Homo sapiens: one gene and its partner. The protein of the gene in region 1 interacts with the protein of each later gene in a pairwise test. Each region holds a gene or a part of one and is shown on either strand. Other genes may lie near its edges.

Region 1 (7,989 bases):
CACGAGTTTACTCAGCACAAGGAGGGGGAAGAGGCCAGGGCGGGCACACCCCATGCCAGGGTCCTATCCATCTGCCTGTCCCCACCTTCCTCCCCCACTGTTCTCTCCCGCCCTAGGCCAAAACAGGCATAGGCCCTAAGGCCTGGTGTCAGGGCAGTCTTAACTCTCAGGAAGGTCAGGGAGCCAAGCGGGGCAGAGGCAGGAAGCCCCGCAGCAGGCCCAGAGGCTTCTGTCAGAGGGCAGTGCCCTGCCTGGAGCCCATTCACTACTCATCTTGGGGCCTTGGTCTTGGGCCAGAAGAATTGGGTCTCTCAGCCATTAAGAAGGGGGCAGTACCAGGCCAAACCTTCTCCATCTGAGCAGTCCCCTGGGCAGTGACTTCTGACCCCAAATGCCCAGTCCTAGGCTGTCCCTCAGTCTGATGCCATCCAGGCAGCCATAGGATCAGGGGCTGGTTCTCTCAGCCTTGGCTTGGAATGGGGGGCTGGCACCCTATCTGACCTACTTCCCTTTCCTCCCCACCTGCTTTCATTTGCTTCTCTCCCCCAGCCTTCACTGTCCCCACCCCAGAGCGCTCCGCCCCCCATGCCTGCTGGGCCCCCTCCCCCACCCTTCCCCAGGGTGCCAAGTGCAGGCACACAAAGGGCCTGATGGTGCATTGTTAGCCCAGCCCCCGCTGCCCGCCGCACCCTCCCTGGGCAGGCACTAGGCCAAGGAGGAGCTGGGGGCCCTGGGTGCCAGGGGGCACCATGGGGAAGAAGAAGGGGACAGCACCTGTCTTCCAGACACTGGGGTCTACATCAGCCAGAACTGAGTAGTGATGAGAGTCCCATTAGAGCAAGCCTGTCTCCTTGACACCTGAGCCTAGTGGGCACTGCCTTCTTTCTTCCCCAGAGCCCCATTCTGGTGGTATTAACCCCTTTTTGACCCCTGTGCCAGGGCTGGGGGTGTGTGGTACCCAAGGGAGGGGACAGTGTCTGGGGGTGCCAGCAGGTTGTGTTGTGCCCACAGCAACCATGTAACAGAGGCACGCTGGGGGAGCTGGGGTCCCTGGGGCCAGGGACAGAGGCACTGACAGAGATTTCTCCTTGTTTCATCAGCTGCTCCAGGGGGAGCCCCCTACCCTTCTCCCCAGTTACCACTAAGGAGGAACACTAACTATCATCCAGACATAGTCACACATATGTCCCTCTCTAGCGCAGCACAACACTCCTTATGCCCACTCTCTCCTCCCCAACCTGATGTCCACTCCATGCCAGCTCTCCCAGCAGTGCCAGGCGGGTACAGGGGTGACCAAACCAGTTGGTGTGTGTGGGGCAGCAGGAGGCAACCCCATAATCCTCCAGGCCTCATCCCCACACTCACACATACTCCCTTAGGGACCAGACAGTTCCCATCCTGCTTTAACCCCTCACAGCCCAATCTGGTTCCCCCGTCCCTGATAAGCGGTCTCCCTCCTCCAGGAATAAGTTGGGGGAAGGGGGAATAGCTGCGCTGACTCATTCCCATTCTCGGCTGCAGCTAGGGGTCTCCAAGGCATTCGGGCGGGGGTCAATTCAAGAACACCCTCCACCTGGCCCGGAAGCCTGGACAGCCTGCCGGTCTCCCCCTCTCCCCAGCACCCACTTCCGGTGTCCCAAACTAGGTCAGCAGCGCTCGTTTCCTGTGGGTCAGCTAGCACCGGCGCCTCTGCCCCTCCCCTGCTCCGGACCCAGGCTCCCCGCCCCCCTGCCCCCCAGGGCGCCCCGAGGTCTCACCATGTCTCAGCCGCCCTTTGATACGTGGGGGTTGTGCGGGGCGGGGGGCAGGGGACCCGCCCTCTCTCTAAACACCAGCAGGGCCGGGGCGCCTGGGCAGGCACGTGTCCGGGCACAACCCGCTGCCCACGCCGCCCCCCCACTCCCGCCCCCACCTCGCTCTGGCCGGGACACGTCGCTCTCTTACTTGGGATGGGGTGGGAGGAGGGAGAGAAAGCTGGAAATTGAAAGCAGCGCCCCCCACCCCTTTGAATGGCAGCCTTCTGCCAGGCGCACTCTGTAGGTTCTACAACAACACAGTAGCGACCCCCACTCTGGGCTGGGGCAGGTGCGCCGGCGCCGGTGGGGGGACGGGTAGTAGGTAGGAGAATTCTTCCTAGTCACCCGCCCTCGCTCTTGGGTTCTGTGGTCATGAGCTGGCGTGGAAAAGGTAGCGGCGGGACTGGAGCCTGAAGGAAGGGAGTGGGATTGAGGGGCAGGGAAGAGAGCGGTCGTTCTATGTCGGTTCAGAGGTTGTTGCTGAGCCCCACTACCGCTGGAGAGAGCGCGGCTCTGGAAGCGCAAGAAACCGAATAGTCCAGCCGGTAACTTTCCCCCAAGCCGCGGCTCCTCCTGCGCCCCCCCAACCCCCATGCAACTGGCCTGGGGCCAATCCACCGCGCCAGGGGGCGCGGGGTGGGGGGGGGGTGCGCGTTGTCCTAGTTAGAGTCCGTCAGCGTTTCCATTCCCTCAACTCAGTCCGGTCTGGGGTCTCCCCCTAAAGTCACGAAGGAGACTGGGGGAACGCTCAGCGTCGCCTCACCCCCTCTCCATCCCGAAGCCGTCTGTCTGTCTGATCCCAGGAGAAGTGCAGATAAACTTTCTGGGGACCCTCCGCCTAGGGTTGGGGGGCATCCGCAGTTCCTTCTCTGTCTTTCATCTCAGTTAAAACCAATTCCAGAGACCCGGGGTGTTGGGAAAGCACAGGGAAGGGGAGTGGTGGGAATGTGATCTGCATGCGTGTGTATCTGGGGGTCCCACTTACAGGACGGACGAAGGACACTGCAGTAGTCTCGAGCCTAGTGAACCCCGAGCCAGGAGACAAAAGTGGGGTACACTCACCTCTCAGCCGTCGGGTCCGCTGGCTGGAGCTGCTGAGGCTCACAGTGTGGGAAGAAGCGCGTCCCCCACCAGGCCCGGGGGCTTGGGGCCCTGCTCCGGTCCTGGTCAGAAGGCCGCGGTCAGTTGCTCGCCGCTCGCTGCTGGGGGGCTCCTCCTCCGCCGCCCTCTGCCTCCTCCTGCCGCCCGCCCCCCCTCGGCCGCCAAGAGCCGTACATTCACCTGGCTCCCACCCGCCCCCCCCTCAGGGCCCGCCTCACCTGTCCTGCTGTCTCACCTGTCCTCCAGCTTGCTTTCCCCCCATCCCTCCCCTCCCTCCCCCCGCCCCTGCCACCCCCCAAACTCCCCCCCCCCAACACTTAGAAACACCCTCTGTCACTTCCTGGTTTTTCACCCGCCCCCCCAGGCCCCCTCCCTCCGCCCAATAAGGACATAAACTTCAACCCCTTCGTCCAGCCAGTCCCTGCAGAGCGCAGATGGGTCCCTCCCTCCTTTTTTGCCCCCTTCTCCAAACTCTTACTTAGCTCTCCTAGCCTTTCCCACCCTCCTCCTTTCCCTCCTTCTTTCCTTCTCTCTGTCTCCCTTCACCTGCCGCGGTCCCTCTCTCCCCCCCCTTTCTCCTGCCCCTATCTCTCCCAGTCCACCTTAACTCAAACTCCGCCCCCGGCCCCCATCCAGCCCTTTGCTGCTGCTCTGCCCGCCCCCTGCACGCCACCGCCCTGTCCGCTCATTGGCCTGAATACCCGCTCATCTCCAGTAGGTCTCGCCTTGCGTTCGTCCAGGGAGGGGGCGGAGCCGAGGGGCTGGCCTGGAACCTGGAGAGGAGGGGGGAGGGGGCAGTGTCCGCAGCGGCCAGGGAATCGAGCACCCCCTACAGGGGCTCCCTCTCCTTCAAGAGGGGCTTCTGTAGGGTCAGGACCTCAGGAGGGAAGGGTATGAGAGGTTAGGGATAGGCTGGGTGGGGGTGAATTGGGGACTTAGGGTCTTGAGGGAGGGGGTCCCGTGAGGGGCTGTAATCAGGTCAGGGACCTAGAAGGGAGGGGGAGGGGGAGCCACCAGGCCTTCGGCTCCGGCCCCTACGCCCCACCCCCTCTCGGAGGGAGCCGGGGAGTTGAGCCTGCGGGCGCCCTGCGTCCCTCCCCACGCGTGACGGTGCCCCGCGGGGAGGGAAGGGCGCCCCAGGCAAGCAGCCTCTGTGCTGTCGCCAGTGCCCGCTGCGGCCTTGGCATTGTCGGAGGGGAGGGGCCCAGTCTGCGAAGGGGGAGGGGGCGCGCCGACGCTTTTGCTCCCCACCTCCATCCCGCGGGTTCCCTAAGTGGAGAAACTGAGTCTCCACCGAGGAGGGATAGCTTGACATGAATTCGCTGAGAGACCCAGGTGGCGAGGGGTGCCTGGATGTTTTGGGATGTGTGGTATGTGTAGGTTTTGGGGAGGACCGGGATAAATACTTAGGAGTCCCCCAACTGAGAAAGGTAGCGGGTGAAGGATGTTTCTGACTGAGCCTGCGGAGCTGCGTACCCCAAAGGGCCCCTCCCACTAGTGTCAAATGGAATCAAATCCGGCTACCTAGGGCCAGGTTTGGCTCCCCTGCGACAAGCCAGGCCGAACCGGGTCGGACTCGCTTTCCCCTCCCAACCCCCCTCCGCAGGGGGCCTCCCTCCCTTTCCAGCAGGTGGCTTCTCGGGACACCAGCTCAACCTGTTGGACCACAATGGGCGGCGCCAGGGGGGCCCTGGCCCTCACCCGGGCTGACCCGGGATCCCCGCGCACGAGGGGCGGAGTCCAGGTCCCTCCCTCCCTCTTTCTCCCTCTCTCCCTCTCCGCGCCGGGCCGTGACTCAGCCTCGGGGCCGCTGCCCTGCGCCCCAGCCAGGGGCGGAAAGTGTGAGGCGCCCCTGAGGGCTCAGGCCAAACCAAACAGCCCCCCACCCCAGACATTATCTCACTGGAGAATTAGGGGGGCTATAGGAAGGAGGAGGTAGCGGCAGGCATGGGGCGCTCTGGCTCGAGTAATCCGCTCCGGGTTTTCCTATCGTCCCTGACCCCCTTGGGTCGCGAGGCTGATCACTGCTCCGGGTTTTCTTCTCAGCCCCGCCGGACAGATCCTGGTCCGGAGGGGCCCGGAGCCGTCCAGGCCGGGGTTTTCCCCTTCCTACTCCAGCCGTCTGGGTCGTGCAGGCCTGGTGAAGGGCTGTGCTAGGGGCTAGGCGGCAGTGCCACAAGTGAAATGGAGAGGGGGCTGCTTTGGGGAGGAAGGAGGATAGCCAAGGAAAGGGGGCGGGGGGCAGGGGGCGGGGGGCGGGGGGGGTGGGAACGTGGCCCGGGGAGGGCAGAGCCAGGGCTTCCAGAGGCAATAGAAGGGCGGGCTCCCTGGCACCAGCCTTTGGGTACAGAAACTCGAAAGGTGCCCAGTGCCTCAGGCTCGCCTCGCCCAACTTCCCCCATGTTTGAGGGTCGCGTTCTGCGTCTGGCTGAACATGACTGATCTTTCTGCGGCTAGATTGCCACTCCTCACCTCATTCCCAATGGTCCTGGAACCCGCAGTTAGTTCCTCAGTGACGCCCACCCTCCCTTGTCTCTCTTTTTCTCCTGGTGCAAATAGCTCCCCTCCTTACTCAGAAATCGGAGCGGGGAACCCCTACTTGAAATTCCCTCTTACCCCAACCCCTAACCACGCCAAACGACTGAAACAGCGGCGGCAGAGAAACGCTGACTGGGGACCCCGCCCCCTCCCATGAAACCCCTGCTGGGCCCCAGGGGCCGGCCGCCCCCGCCCCGCCACTAGGCCCAGACTGGAACTGGGAGCTGGAGGGCAAGTGAGGGGCCTGCAGGGGCCGCCTGGGGATAGGAGAGCGTCCCAGATCCGCATGTTAAGACTTAAATTTTTAGGTGACCAGCTAGACCTTAAATTTGGGGAGAGTAGCACGAGTTGGACAAATACCCAGAGAAGGAAGTGTTTACCCTAAGAGAGGAATGAAAGCCCCGAGTGGGAGGACTGAATACCTGGGGCTGGGGACAGCGACTCGGAATGACGGCCAGGTGCGCGGACTGGCCGGGCCACGTGCGCCGAAGGGTAGAAGCATAGAAGTTAGATGCTTGCAGAACCTGGGGGAATGAGGCCTTCAGGTGTTAAGAAAGGCGAGGCTTTGCCTGGGCGGGGTCCTGCGTGAGTGGGTCTGGGGGCCTGTTTCGGAATGTGGGGGGCTGAGCTGCAAGCGGAGCGTCAGCATGCGCCAGGCGCCCACCTCTTCTCCGCTGCTCCCCCCCATCCTCCGCTGCCTCCGCTTCCCTCGAAAAACCCGCCGCCCAGGAAACCGCTGGGGGCGCTCAGACCGCAGACCCCCCACGCCCCCCGCCCCCCAGCGCTCCCACCGCGACCGCCCAACCCACCTGAAGGGGCCGTGGCCGCCAGGGGTACCCCCCTCCCGCCGACTCCCCCCAACACCTGCGGGTGGCACTATTTATAACTCCGCGCCTATTCCGGGCCTCTGGGTTGGAGCCGGCTGCCGCGCAGCGCTAATCGCCGCCGGGATCTCTGCGCCCCCCAAGGCCGGGGGAGGCAAATTTAGCTTCAGGAAGCTCAGGGGAACAGTTTCCAAAACTCCACGTCCCAGAGAAGGCAAGACAACCCCTCTGCACTCAGCCTCCTTCCGATCAGCCACCAGGAGGCGCAGGTCCCCGGCTTCTCGAACCCAGCCAGCTAGGAGGTTACGGTCGCTTCTTTGAAGCTGGGGTAGGCGAAGGCCTGAGGGCGAATGATGGAAAGGAACTGAGGCCGAAGAATGGCTGGAGGAACGGGTACGCTCCAAGGCTGGCGAACACTCTAGAGTCTGAGAGTAACTGAGAAAGTTGGGTGGAGGGAAATAACTCACATGCAAGACAGATGTAAATATGATGCAAATAAGAGCCTATGCCCATGCCGGGCGCGGTGGCTCTCGCCTGTAATCTCAACACTTTGGGAGGCAGAGGCGGGTGGAACACCTGAGGTCAGGAGTTCGAGACCAGCCTAACCAACATGGTGAAACCCTGTCTCTAGTAAAAATACAAAAATTAGCCAGTCGTGGTGGCACACGCCTGTAGTCCCAGCTACTCAGGAGGCTGAAGCAGAATTGCCTGAACCTGGGAGGCGGAGGTTGCGGTGAGCCGAGATCGCGCCATTGCACTCCAGCCTGGGCAACAAGAGCCAAACCCCGTCTTTAAAAAAAAAAAAAAAAAAAAAAGCCTATGCCCTTGGGGATGGGTCTGCGCTCTGGCGCTGCCAGTGAAATGATTGCCACACACCCCTTTTTGCCGGCCTCTTGGTGTTGGGAAAACGTGGGACATCCCCACCCACCCACCCCTCCCCGCCGCCAGATTATTGCTATGATATCCAGTTTATTGCCTGCCGCTCCTCAGACCCTTGGGCCGTGACCCCTCTCCTCCAACTGTTCCTTGCATGCCAACGAGGGTCCTGTATCCGATGTAATCCGCCGGGAATCCTGGATATCAGGCTTCTCCTCTCGCTGTTGTACTTGAGGGTCACATCCAGCTGGTCCCTCCTGTCTCCATTCCTACTCCACCCATTCCCCCACCCCCTGTGACCATTAGAGGGCACCAGGGCACCGAGGGGTAGGTGAGGTTTTAATGGCAAAGGCCGCAATTACTTTTGCACCAACCTAATATCTTGGTACCCTGTCTCCTTCACCTCCCTCCCACCTTACTCCACTTGAGTTCCTGAGGGAGTAATTTGGACACTCAAAACCTGAGTTGCCCTAGTCGGGGAGAGATACTTGTGGGGGAACAGCCACAGAGTGGGGAGCCATGGGCCAGGAAAGATCTCTTGGCTGTGTGGATTAGGTGAAAGGGCTGCACCTGAAACCTCCAAATGGGCTGAGAACAGGGAGCTTAGGGCTGAGGTGGGAAGTGGCATGGAGCGGGTGCATGGAGGTGGTACCCTCCATGCTTTTGTTTGCATGGCCCTGCCTCCAGGCCACTTTGGCCACCATCTCCATGCAAACACCAGCTCAGAAGAGGAAGGCAGGCTCATTAGGAGAAGCCGTGAGTTGGGGATCTGAAAATCTGGGTTCGCTAAATGACTCCTTTACCTCAGTGTGCTGTGTATGTTCTTGGGCGAATCATTTCACCTCTTTGGGCCT
Region 2 (7,031 bases), on another chromosome or scaffold:
CTTCCTGGATGCTGGACAAGAACCCAAATACCAAGAAGGTACTGAGCTGGTTAACACTTAACCCATCTGCATATGGCAAGCTAAAAGAGCACTGTAGCATGCCCAATGGGGCTTCGGGAGCTGCAGGCACCCACCCCTAGATGCCACCGTGGGGCCAGAGCCTAAAAGAGCTTGCCCCAGCTCCTGCCCCTGCCTGTCTCTGTGCTCCTCCTCCTGTAAAGGGTTTTAGCAGTGGTGGCAGCCAAACAGACGAGCCACATCATTGTCACACGTCCTGCGAGGGGGGTTCAGAGAACTCTCCCATTTCATCAGCAGAAAAATAACTAGACAGAACATTTCCTCCACTTGTAGAGACGATATAGATGAAAACAAAAGTCAGAGAGCAGAACAAAGCAAGGACCCACTCAAGTAGGCTAGGATTTTTTTTTTTTAAATACAGGTGGGGTCTCAATATGCCCAGGCTGCTTTTGAACTCCAGCGCTCAAGCAATCCTCCTACCACAGGCTCCGGAAGTGCAGGCTAGGATTTTTTTTTTTTTCTTTTTTTGAGGCAGGATCTCACTCTCTCACTCAGGCTGGAGTACAGTGGCCTGATCACGGTTCACTGCAGCCTTGACCTCCCAGGCTCAAGGTGATCCTCCCACCTCAGCCTCCTGGGTAGCTGGGACTACAGGTGCGTGTCACCATGCCTGGCTAATTTTTGTATTTTTTGTAGATAGGGGGTTTTGCCATGTTGCCCAGGCTGGTTTCAAACTCCTGGGCTCAATCAATCCACCTGCCTCAGCCTCCCAAAGTGCTGGGATTACAGCCGTGAGCCACCCACCCACCTGGCCCAGGCTAGGAATTTTGACAGGGCTCCAAGTCAGACAGAGCGGAGTACTGGAACATCCATCCATTGTTCTAATTTGACCAGCAAAGTGGGAGTAGGGGAAGGCTGGAACTAGGTGGGCACAATGATGCCTGGGTTAACCCCAAGAAACCAGACCTGTCAGCATGACTAATGTCATAATATCTCTGGTTCTGCTCTGTCAGGGTTGGCTCAGAAACTGAACAGATTAGTTCTATAAAACAGGAAAATTCCACTAGTGACTAAAGATGAGCATGACTGAGGAAGGCGAGCTGGAAGCCCTGACCATCTCACCTAACTCTCCAATTCTCTCCACATTGCCACCTTGTTTTCCAGGCCAAAATCCCTAGGGATGAATTGACCTAGAGCTCTGTAACTCAGTTTGAATAAGAAAAGGTATTAGTGCCCTACTTAGGTTCCTAGTACAAGCTCAAATGCTTTTTCTACTAAAACAGCTTATTGAGGGCAGGAACTGTATTTTCTCTCTCTCAAAGTGCCTGACATAAAATACTCAGTAAATTATTTGCTGAATAAACTTTTGCTATATATGGATGAAGTATAATGTATTACCCAAAAATCACTTTTCTGAGAATCACAACTATCTCTAAAATCAGCCAAAAACCAGAAGAAAAAGTCTCAGAATATCCAAAATAAAGATCAAAGACTATGGATGAAAGATTTTCTCATAGGAAAGTCCCTTAAGCCCTCACACAGTCTTTTGTTCGAAACAAAATTCAAGTTTTTCTAGTTCCCTAACTAACTGAAGCAGCAACTCCAGAATGAGAGCAAGGAGTGGCTGCTTAAATGAAGTTAAGCTGATAGCTGCAGAAAGAGACAGCTGACCCACTAAGGGGGAAAAGAGGCCCAGCAGCTTGGAGCTAGGTAGTATACAGCTCAAGGGACCTCAACAGCCCATAAAGGTACTTGTGTATTTTTTGTATACAAGTTCATTCATGTAATATGTTTTTTGTTTTGTTTTGTTTTTGAGACAGAGTCTTGCTTTGCCACCCAGGCTGGAGTGTGGTGGTGCAATCACAGCTCACTGTAGCCTCCACTTCCCTAGCTCAAGTGACTCTCCCACCACAGCCTCCCAAATACTGGTACTACAGGCACGTCACCATGCCCAGCTAATTTTTTATTCTTTGTAGAGACGGGTCTCACTATGTTGCTCTGGCTGGTCTCGAACTCCTGGGCTCAGGTATTCCTCCTACCTTGGCCTCCCAAAGTGCTGAGATTACAAGTGTGAGCCACCATGCCAGCATCATCTAATGTTTTAAAGTGCTTACTTGTTCAAGGTTAAGCGCTGTGGAGCATAGATTTGTATGGGACAGTACTAACTGTCACAGGTATTTAGTGGAAATAAGATATACATGAATAACGATATTACAAAGTGGAAGGCACTAAGTGCCACATAAGAGGTGAAAGAACCTCTCAATGGTTTGGAGAAGGCAAAGGTTATTTCTAGCTTCATGGTAGCGTTGACAACAGAGCTAGGTCTTGGTTGGATTTGGACAAACCCCTAGACAGAGGTAAAGGTGGAGAAGGGGTTGAGGTGGGTAAAGCAATGTATTCGATTTGGCTGGAAAATAGTATGGCTAGAAAGGTAGGTATTGGATAGTGACTGCTCATAACTGATGTTAATAATTACAAGTCATCAGAAAGGTTAACCATGAGGCACATACTTTTGAACTAAAGGCTATCATCACTTTTGAGATTACTTTCTTAAAAAGTATTTTAGGGTTTTTTTCTTAAGTTTAAGCAGCACATCAGCCAGAGTCATTGGTTGCAGCAACAAAAATTGATCCTAAACATAAAAGTAATTTACTGAAAGGCTATTAGTTTGATCATGGAATTGATGGGAAGGCTGGATACGTAAGATTGAACTGGGAAGAAATTAAGCTAGGCAGCAGGAACAATCAGGTCAGAATGCCAAACATCTGTGCTGAACACAGCTACTACTAACCAAATGCTCACTCCAATGGAGACCCAGCCTCCCCTTCCCTACATCTGTTATTAAGTCTCAACTCTTGAGTACCTGTTTTCAATATGTGTGATAAAATGGGAAGTACACCTGAAGTTTTCCTCCTGCATTCTGAAATACAAGTTGCCTCAAGAAAAAGCACTTGTGCAGTTTTTGAGGTGGCTCAACTAATTGCTTTTCTCATGGGACACTATTTTTACTTGAAAGAACGAATGACAAACTATGGTTATTTAGAAGTATTTACCATTTTCTTGAAAATGAATGAAAAAATGAATGAAACAAGCCTGTTATTTTAAATAAGATAACTTAGTACTACTTATTGCCAATAAAAAAGTTTGAGAATTCAGGTGAAAATTAGTATTTTGGAAAACTTGTATCTGTCACTGTGAGCTTGACAGCTTCCCACATGCTCAAATTCTTCTGACAGATCATTGGTGATATTAATGAAATGTGATTTTTTTACATTGTATAATAAATGAGTCAACGTTTGGAAGATCTGCATAACTCTGAAATCAGTATTTTCCAAATGACCATGTAGCCATGTAACAATAATGCTATAAAACAAGGTATGGGTAAAAATTCATTCAAGGTACAAAACATAAGCTAATGTATTTTAATGCAACAGAATATGAAAAGTTCATTGACATAATTTCAGATTCCACATTGCACTAATCACTTAAGAAAATACCACTTGTGGAGTTTTGGTACAGTATCAGAGTAAGAATATCCAAAATTATCTGAAAAATCTACTGAAATAATCCTCCCTTTCCAACTACATATTTGTGTGATGCTGGAGTTTTTTGGTATATTTTAATCAAAATAGTGTATCACGGCAAAATGAATGCAGAAGCATTTAATGGAATCCAGCTGTCTTCTATTAAACTACATATTAAAGAGATTTACAAAAAATGTAAAACAGGGCATGGGCATGCCAGCCCCTGCTTCTCAGCCTGTACTCCCAGCACTTTGGGAGGCCAAGGCAGGTGGATCACCTGAGGTCAGGAGTTTGAGACCAGCCTGACCAACATGGAGAAAAGCCGTCTCTACTAAAAATACAAAAAATTGGTGGGGCGTGGTGACACATGCCTGTAATCCCAGCTACTCGGGAGGCTGAGGCAGAAGAATCGCTTGAACCTGGGAGGCAGAGGTTGCAGTGAGCCAAGATCGCACCACTGTACTCCAGTCTGGGCAACAAGAGCAAAACTCTATCTCAAAAAAAAAAAAAAGTTTTCTTTTCTTTCCAATCCCAACTGATGTGTAGCATAAACAACTTTTAAACATGTCTTTTACCCCTGACAGATCAAGAAACTTTTTTTTTTTTTTCAGGCAGAGTCTCACTCTGTTACCCAGGCTGGAGTGCAGTGGCACAATCTCAGCTCACTGCAACCTCCAGTTCAAGCAATCCTCCTGCCTCAGCCTCCCGAATAGCTGGGATTACAGGCGTGCACCACCATGCCCAGCTAATTTTTTTTTTTTTTTTTGAAATGAGTCTTGCTCTGTTGCCCAGGCTGGAGTGCAGTGGTGCGATCTCGGCTCACTGCAAGCTCTGCCTCCCGGGTTCATGCCATTCTCCTGCCTTAGCCTCCCAAGTAGCTGGGACTACGGGCGCCCGCCACCACACCTGGCTAATTTTTTGTATTTTTAGTAGAGACGGGGTTTCACCTTGTTAGTCAGGATGGTCTCGATCTCCTGACCTCATGATCTGTCCGTCTCGGCCTCCCAAAGTGCTGGGATTACAGGCGTGAGCCACTGCGCCAGGCCATTTTTTTTAATTTTTAGTAAAGACTGGGTTTCATCATATTAGCCAGGCTAGTCTCAAGCTACTGACCTTGTGATCTGCCTACCTCAGCCTCCCAAAATGCTGGGCCTGGCCAAGAAACTTCTTTCTTAATGAAAAAAATTAGTCCAGCTAGGCACAGTGGCTCACGCCTGTAATCCCAGCACTTTGGGAGGCCGAGGCGGGTGGATCAACTGAGGTCGGAAGTTCGAAACTAGCCTGACCAACATGGAGAAACCCTGTCTCTGCCAAAAATAAAAAATTAGCCGGGCATGGTGGTGCATGCCTGTAATCCCAGCTACTCGGGGGCTGAGGCAGGAGAATCGCTTGAACCCGGGAGGTGGAGGTTGCAGTGAGCCAAGATCGCGCCATTGCGCTGGATCCAGCCTGGGCAATAAGAGTGAACACTCCCCCCCCAAAAAAATTAGGCCAGATGCGGGGCTCACACCTGTAATCCCAGTACTTTGGGAGGCTGAAGCGGGAGGCTCATTTGAGACCTGCTTGGTTAACATAGCAAAACCTTTTCTCTACAAAAAAATTTTTTTTTAATTAGCTGGGTGCTGGGCATGGTGGCTCACGCCTATAATCTCAACATGTTGGGAGGCCAAGGTGGGAGAAATGCTTGAGTCCAGGAGTCTAAGACCAGCCTGGAAAACATAGGGAGACCCCCACCTCCACAAAAAATACAAAAATTAGCTGGGCGTGGTGGTGCATGCCTGTAGTCCCAGCTACTTGGGAGGCTGGGTGGGGGAGGGTTGCTTGAGCCCAGGAGTTTGGGGCTGCAGTGAGTTATGACCATCCCACTACACTCCAGCCCAGGTGACAGAGCAAGACCCTATCTCAAAAGCAAAACAGAACAAAGTAGAAAGAAAAAAAAAAACTAAACTTTTATCAAGATGAAAACTATGACAAAGCTTTGGAGACACTATTATTATGGTGCCTTTCCAACAGAGAAGATGAACATGGACTTAATCCATTTCTTACACCTAGTTTACTTTCAAAGCAGTATATGCCTTCACTTCTCAATCATTTATCAAATCAATAATGCTCAGCAAGTGACCTTCACTTGACCTGCAGAGTTGCTTTTGATCATCTATTCAAAATAAGTACAATCTAAGTAACTTAAATGTGTTTAGATTTTTGTAGCATTTCTGGGCTCCTCCCACAACCAAATGCCCAAACACTGGATTTTGTTTTCCTGGTCTTCCTTCCTCAAATCCTCTTCGCAAAAAAGACTAAACCATAAGGACTATAAAGGTGAAAGCCTTGTATTTTTAGAGGAAGATGGTTGAGTGGATTTTAAATTATAATTGACTAAGATGTACTGAAAAATTAATTATACCATGTCAACAATATCATGCATAGAAAAAAAGGGGAGCAACTCACCCTAAACATTTTAAACTTAAGAAAATGGCAATCAGCCAGGTGCAGTGGCTCTCATGCCTGTAATCACGCACTTTGGGAGGCCAAGGCAGTCGGATCACCTGAGGTCAGGAGTTCAAGACCAGCCTGGCCAACATGGCGAAACCCTGTCTCTACCAAAAAGTACAAAAATTAGTCGGGCATGGTGGCACGAGCTGTAGTCCCAGCTACTCAGGAGGCTGAGACACAAGAATCATTTGAACCCAGGAGGCGGAGGTTGCAGTGACCCGAGATCAGATTATGCCATTGCACTCAAGCCTGGGTGACAGAGTGAGACCCTGTCTCAAAAAAAAAAGTAAATTAGGAATAAAGGCATTTGTAAACCTGTTACCATACAAAGTAACAGATTACCAAGTATAATTTCCAAAAAGTAGACCTATCACTTAATCATCCTTTAAAATTTGTAAAATGAACATTTTATTTGTTAATTTCCATTTACATAAGGAAAAATATCACGCTCGATAGGCTTCTTTTCAGTAACAAACATTTTCCAGAGCAGGAAAACGAATTAGGAAAATTTATTGGTTACAATTACAAGGAATTAGTTGGGTACAAAAGTCTCTTTATGGGGGATAGGCAGCCAGGATTTTACTATGTTGCCTGGGCTGGTTTGAACTCAAGTGATCCTCCTGCCTCAGACTCCCAAGTAGTTGGGACTACAGGTGTGTGCCACCTGAGCTAAAATTCTATTAATTTTACCAAATTTCATTAAATCTAAGATGTCTGTGATTATAAAATGCATTATTTCATGTAACACTAGGAAAAAAACTGCCAATTAAGCTATGGCATAATGCTTACTTATGGTATCCTGTCTTCAAGGAAGGAAAACTGTCTGCCAATGACTACTATGATAGAGGCAGGAGACAGACAAATGCCTAGGCAGACAGGGGCACATCCCCAGTGAAACCCCACCTCCAAGCCGAAGACAGTTTAAAAGCTTGAAAGCCAAGCTACAAGTCAAATCCACGGACCAGATTGAGAACCTGTGTTCCCATTTGGCATGCT

The links.
Region 2: the proteins of ZBTB7B (region 1) and ZBTB5 interact in binary tests that used the Homo sapiens proteins (3 or more experiments, as listed by UniProt).

What each region holds. Positions count from the first base shown.
Region 1 is NC_000001.11:154,997,813-155,005,801, reverse strand, and holds the start of ZBTB7B (zinc finger and BTB domain-containing protein 7B), read right to left. Parts: upstream 3,001-7,989; 5' UTR 2,960-3,000; coding exon of another isoform or gene 2,859-2,959; intron 1-2,858. UniProt on the Homo sapiens protein: Transcription regulator that acts as a key regulator of lineage commitment of immature T-cell precursors. Exerts distinct biological functions in the mammary epithelial cells and T cells in a tissue-specific manner.
Region 2 is NC_000009.12:37,455,422-37,462,452, forward strand, and holds part of ZBTB5 (zinc finger and BTB domain-containing protein 5), read right to left. Parts: intron 1-7,031. UniProt on the Homo sapiens protein: May be involved in transcriptional regulation.